Linked DNA regions of Homo sapiens. The protein of the gene in region 1 interacts with the protein of each later gene in a biochemical or structural test. Each region holds a gene or a part of one and is shown on either strand. Other genes may lie near its edges.

The links.
Region 2: the proteins of RAB5A (region 1) and CHM form a complex in vitro, tested with the Homo sapiens proteins (one study listed by BioGRID).

Annotation. Positions count from the first base shown.
Region 1 is NC_000003.12:19,953,597-19,957,096, reverse strand, and holds part of RAB5A (ras-related protein Rab-5A), read right to left. Parts: intron 1-3,500. UniProt on the Homo sapiens protein: The small GTPases Rab are key regulators of intracellular membrane trafficking, from the formation of transport vesicles to their fusion with membranes.
Region 2 is NC_000023.11:86,037,559-86,041,058, forward strand, and holds part of CHM (rab proteins geranylgeranyltransferase component A 1), read right to left. Parts: intron 1-3,500. UniProt on the Homo sapiens protein: Substrate-binding subunit of the Rab geranylgeranyltransferase (GGTase) complex.

The sequences.
Region 1 (3,500 bases):
ATTAGCCAAGTGTGGGGTGCATGCCTATAGTCAGTCCCAGCTACCTGGGAGGACCACTTGAGGCCACGTCAAGGCTGCAGTGAGCTTTGATGCCACCACTGTACACCAGCCTGGGCAACAGAGCAGGCTGTTTAAAAAAAAAAAAAAAAAGGAAAAAAAACACAAAATTTTTCAAATCTTCAAATTTTCTAAATCAAACGCTATGCACTAGGTGTAACAGCTACCATCTCAAGATAATAGTATGTCATGACCAAACAACAAAAATATCAACAATGACAAAACGATTCAGCCAAAAGTTAACAGTGGTGATGGTAACTGTAATAGCTATAATTTAATAAACCTTTTACTGTGCCAGGCATTGTGGTAAAAACTTCAATCTGGATACAGTCTCTCTTAACCACAATAGTTTATTCTTTAGAATGACTTGGCCATAAATTGTTAGGTAAAATAGTATGTTAATAATAACTTTGAAATAAGCCTTGTTTTTCTTCATTTTAACAGTAACTTTTATTCCTGTTACAGGTTGTTTTAGACTAAAAACAACTAGTTGGCCATGCTAACCAATTTAGATGGATGTTAAATATGTAAGTAGAAACAGCACTTCACTTAAGAGTTAATAATTGCACTAAATTTCCTTTTTTTTGAGACGGAGTCTCGCCCTGTCGCCCAGGCTGGAGTGCAATGGCGCGATCTCGGCTCACTGCAACCTCCGCTTCCTGGGTTCAAATGTTTCTCCTGCCTCAGCATCCTGAGTAGCTGGGGTTATAGGCACCCACCACCACGCCTAGCTAATTCTGGTATTTTTACCATGTTGGCCAGGCTGGTCTCGAACTCCTGACCTCGTGATCTGCCAGTGTGCTGGCACCCTCCCAAAGTGCTGGGATTACAGGCATGAGCCACTGCGCCCGGCCTACACTAAATTTCTTAATTAATTTTGTGTATTATCAGGCCTTGATCATTTGTGACAAGAAAGGAGAGCAGCAGTGGTACAGATGACTGAAAACTATGGGTACTCCCTAAGTAGAGAAAAAGCAGAATACTCTTGATTGGACAGAGGGATCATACTTTCCTAAAGATGTCTGGCAGGTGGCTAACAGGAAGGCATTCTCCTATAAAGAGATACAGATAACATGTAATGTGAGCAGTACATAATACATGTAATTCTCAAACTAGGTTAGTTGCATGAACAATTTTTTTTTTAAGACGGAGTCTCGCTGAGACACCCAGGCTGGAGTGCAATGGCATGATCTCGGCTCATTGCAACAACCTCCTCCGCCTCCTGGGTTCAAGCGAATCTCCTGCCTCAGCCTCCCAAGTAGCTGGGACTACAGGCGCACGCCACCATGCCTGGCTAATTTTTGTATTTTTAGCAGAGACAGGGTTTCATCACATTGGCAAGCTGGTCTCGAACTCCTGACCTCGTGATCCGCCCGCCTCAGCCTCCCAAAGTGTTGGGATTACAGGTATGAGCTACCGCGCCCAGTCAACAATGTTTTTAAAAATCTGACAAACACCACACCTCAAAAAAACCCCCCAATTATTCCATGTATGGGTGAATCAATGTTAGTACCAATGTAAAATCAACTACTCAAACGTAACATGCCATTAGAATCATCTGGAAAACTTATTAAAACCTAGATTGTTGGTCCCACCCAAATGTTTTGATTCAACACGGGATTCTACATTTTAACAAGTTCCTAGTTAATGCAGCTACTTCTGGAAGTGGGAACGCTCTTTGAGGACCACTGTTCTAAGCTAATGTACAAAAATCACAGAACCAGCAAGAGGAATGTTATTTTCATGTACAGTTCCATCATCTAAACTTTAGAGTTTATAACACATTTTTTGATTAGTGCATACAAAATTGTAACTGTGGTATGAAGCACTTTTCTCAGAAGAGAAAAAAAGGATTGTCTGCTTGCTATTTCACTGCATATTCTAACCACTGAGGATTAATTTGTTTATAAATATCACATAAATGTCTTCTTAAAAATAAGTATTTTTTGAGAGTATTTACTGAAGAGCTACCAAGCCTAGAGATGCAGTACCAAGTAAAGAAGGAAGACAACTCTCTGAGCCTACTGCTCCCTGCTAATCTCTGGGCTAACTTTAGACCAACAATAGAAACATAAATGTCATGCAAACTTTAAACCCATACAAACAAGCTAGAATTCTCTAAATTGCTAAATCTACGGCACGCAATTTCATCAGAAGTGCTATAGGGGTAGGATGCATGAAGTATGGTGAGGCAACAGGGATTCTTTGTTTTGTTTTGTTTTTGAGACAGGGTTCTCACTGTCACCCAGGCTGGAGTGTGGTGGTGCAGTCTCGGCTCACTGTAACCTCCGCCTCTTCAGTTCAAGCAATTCTCCCATTTCAGCCTTCTCAGTAGCTGGGACTACAGGTGTGTGCCACCATGCCCGGTTAATTTTCGTATTTTTTGTAAAGACGGGGTTTTGCTATGTTGGCCAGGCTGGTCTCAAACTCCTGGACTCAAGCGATCTGCCCACCTCAGCTTCCCAAAGTGCTGGGATTACAGATGCAAGCCACCGCACACAGCGCAACAGGAATTCGTAAATCAAGTTATTGTATTTAGGAAGAACCACACAAATTACAGAAGAAATCTTGATATTCTTAATGAATCCAGAATCCACAAATCAAGAGTGTAACATATGATATCCACCTTCGAACACAATCAAATAGAGATTAAAATTTTGAGTGCTTCAGAACAATAACTCATGTTAGGAGATATAAACAGTAAAGTGAAAAATTAAACAGTTGAGGCCAGGCGTGGAGGTTCACGCCTATAATTCCAGCACTTTGGGAGGCCGAGGCAGGTGGATCACTTGAGGTCAGGAGTCTGAGACCAGCCTGGCCAAGATGGCAAAACCCTGTCTCTACTAAAAATACAAAAGTTCACTGGGATTGGTGGTGTGGGCCTGTAATCCCAGCTACTCAGGAGGCTGAGGCAGGAGAACTGCCTGAACCTGGGAAGTAGAGGTTGCAGTCAACCTAGATCACACCACTGCACTCCAACCTGGGCCACGTAGTGAAATTCCGTCTCAAAAAAAATAAACCAACAGTTGAAATGCAAAAGAGTTGGTTGGCTTCATTTTTCAGGTAACTTCTACCACATGACAGTCAAAACAAAAATACGTATTACCTACAAGTTATGGCCCTTTCAGGTTGATCATGAAATAGCTCAAACCTTAAAATTCTTAAATGCTTTACATCTACTCTAGTTCCTAAAGGTGAAGAGCTATGAGTACAGAGCATAAAAGAATAGTGTCCACAGCTATAACCATAATGGTACTGTCATACCTCCTGAATAGTATTCACATGGGGTCAGCACAGTGAAAAAGTATCCAATAAAGATTAACAGAAAGTTGGGCCAGGGGCAGTGGCTCATGCCTGTAATCCCAGCACTTGGAGAGCCCGAGGTAGGCAGATCACTTGAGGCCAGGAGTTCAAGACCAACCCGACCGACATGGTGAAACCCC
Region 2 (3,500 bases), on another chromosome or scaffold:
CTGTGTTCAGAACATATTTTACTAATGTGCCACATGACCTTTACTGCATTACTCATAAAACTGTGAGTCTAAAATAGATGATGAAAGAGAATAAGTATTCATTTCAAAAATGTTATAAAAATGATACAAAAAACCCTTCCCCTTTATATAAAATCCTATCATGAAAATCATTTTACAAAAAATAGAAATAAAAACTTTTCAGCTTTATAAACTATTTTTTTTAATGAGCGGGACCTTGGACCAAAAAAGGTATTATCATATCCATCCTATCAATTAAGATGCATGATGTATCCATTGTAAGCACTAACAGTTGTTGAAGACTGTAGGAAACAAAAGAATAGTCAACCAAAAGAAAAAAAGCTCCATAAACAGGACAATGAGTCCCATATTTGATCTTGAAAATTTAATTTGGAAGAACACTAAAAAAGACACAAAATGGCAAACCCCAGCACATGCACAAGTATTTCAGTGGGAAATTATGTACCTTGGGATTGTGAAAGGAAAACAAATCTCCCCAAAATCACTAAACCAAAAGGAAAAGTCAAGTTGGGAATTGTGTTGGGCAAACCTCTCTCCCTTTCTATTCCTAAATAAGATCACTACAAAGATTTTTAAAAAGCTACATACCTCCCTCACAATTTGCCCATAAGGAAATTCCTTGTGGACAACCAAAGGACAGGCAGAACTCAAAGTCATTCCTCTGTTCCCATGAGACAAATGCGTATCTGATGGCTTCCTCCGCCCTACTGTTTCACTACAGACTAAGGCATAAGTGACTATTCCTCATTTGTCTCTTAACTAACTATGACCCAGAAGCCTCCTCCCCACTTCGAGTTGTCTGGCCTTTCCTGATGGAACCAATGAATTATACATCTTACAAACGTTGATTAATGTTTCATGTCTCCCTAAAACATGTAAAATCAAGCTGTGCCCCTACCGCCTGGGGCACGTCATCAGGACCTGAGGCTGTGCCACAGGTGCATCCTTAACCTTGGTAAAATAAACTTTCTAAATTAATTTGGTAATCTAAATTATTTTGGTTTACAGGATCAATGAAGAATTCCTACTGAAGCAAATCATTTCTTAAAATGTAACTGTAATCTCTGATCCCATTTCTGGCCATTGCTTTAGTGGTTGATTCTCTCTTCAGTTTTAAGGGATAAACACAACCAGGTCATTCCGTTCACCTTCATCAAAAGAAGGTTTGCAAGCTGACACAGATGTCATGATGCTGTCAATAATAAGAAGCTGACATCATGAGGTTACTGCTGGAATCAGGATTTTAATGTCAACAATGATAACTCTCCAAAATAAAACAACTGCCAACCACAAACCCAGGTTAAAATAATCTCATCTTGATACTATGAGCTATTTTTTCAATTGAAAGATTCTAGCAAACTTAATCTAATACCTCAACCTTAGTCAGAAAAACTTTCGTCTTAACTGTTTCACCTACATCAAACTTAGCTGAGCCTCAGGCTTCACATTTGAAAAATGGAGATGATATAGTATCTACTGCAGGGTTACTGTGAAAATGAGACAATGCATTGTAGGGGCTTATCACCGTGCTTGGCATATAACAAATGTTAGACAATATTTTTCATGTGTTTGACAGTGTGTTGTAGGTACTAAAAACAATTTTCTAATTATCATTGATTTTGCTTACATAGCTTAAACCAAAGTAACACAGGTGTAGAAAATAAGGATTTGAACTCACAGCTCAGCATCTTCTTAATATGCCTCATATCCATGTGTAAAACTTTTTCTCTATACTTTAGCTTGTGTAAATTTTCTCATGATGATTTTAAATCCACATAAATAAGACTAGTTTAACAAATGTGCAAAGTCAGATCACAGAAACATGATTCAAAACATTTCAAAGCAATATAAAATGATTAAAACCACCATTAACTAGTAGCCATAATAACTCAATGAGAACACTGGCCTAGACCAAAAAAAAAAAAAAAAAAAAGACAGGTGAGAATACTCAAAAGAAAGAGTAGAAGTTAGTGAGTGACAGGGACAGGAGGCAGGGAAATTCTAGGCAGAAAAGGGCAGGTCCCTGAGAAAACCCCACCCTCAAGCCTGAAACCATGACGCAAAGTGAGAACTTATATCCCCATTTTCCCGTGCGAATGTTGCCTTTTCCGAAACCACTTACGGCCCACCCCACACCCCATCCTGTGTACATAAAAACCCCAGGCTCAGCCAGCAGAGAGAAGAGAAGCAGTTGGACATTAGAGACTACAGCTGGACATCAGAGAGAAGTGGCTCGACTTCAGAGGGACACCTTGACAGCGTAACTTCGAAGAAGAATCTGGCCAGAGACAGCTGGCATTCAGGGGAAGACTACCTTCCTGCCCTTTGCAGCTCCCCTTCCCACTAAGAGCCATCTCCATCAGCAATAAGATCCCCTACATTTACCATCCTTCAATTCATTCATGTGACCTCATTTCTCCTGGATGCCGGACAAGAGCTCGGGAACGATGAGTGTGGACACAAAAAGGCTGTCACACTTGCCCTTTGCCCTCACTGGTAGAAGGCAGCCGATTAACACAAAAAGGCAGAGGGCCCACTGAGCTGTTAACCCTTAAGCCGTCTGCGGACAGCAGAGCTAAAAGAGCACTGTAACATTCCCTCTGGAGCTTCAGGGGTTGCAGGCACCACCCCCGGAGATGCTACCACAGGGCCAGCACAGAGTTGACTCCTGCCAGTGCCCAAAAGCACTCGCCCCGGCTCCTGCACCCACTCAACTGCACATCCCCTCTTGTGAGGGGTGAAACACAGCAGGTCCGAGTGAGTGGAGTTCATTCCTCCTGGCACAAGAGCGGCAGGCTGACTCCAGCACTCATGTATTCCAGTTCCTGCCTTGTTCACTCACGTGCTCCCTCCTATGAGGAGTTGAAAGCGGTGGGCTGAGTAAACAGGGTGCTCCCTTCACAAGTCCCATGAAGGGGTCAGGAAAATATCCTGCTTCACCAGTACTTTTTAAAATGTGATAAAAACCAAATCAGTCAAGGAATACATTACCAACTTCAGCTCCTGATAAAATCCAGTATGAGATGAAACACTTATTTAAGCACCATACTGGCCAAGCTGCCTCTGGTCTCTTCTCCTGTCTGTTTGCAAACTGTTCTTTTCAAAAACACCCTCAATATGATAACATGCTAGCTCTCATAATCATGCTCTAAAAAAGCAGTATCTGTGATAAATTATCAACTCTTTTTACACCAAACCTTAAATGAAATTATTAGAAAAGCAAAAACAAAACATCAACCTTTCAATGTATCCCTATTTTGCTGGCCACAACTAAACGCCCCCAAAATGTTTCCAATGAGCACCAACAGTGATTTTTAGCCTATTTTACTTTTAAATATATTTATATACAGAACAGGCACAGACTAACTTTTTAGTTAAAGAATGCACTGAGACTGAATAGCAGATGATTTAGCATGAGTTAACAGGTCAATTATATGGAATTATAATTGTTTCTGTGCATT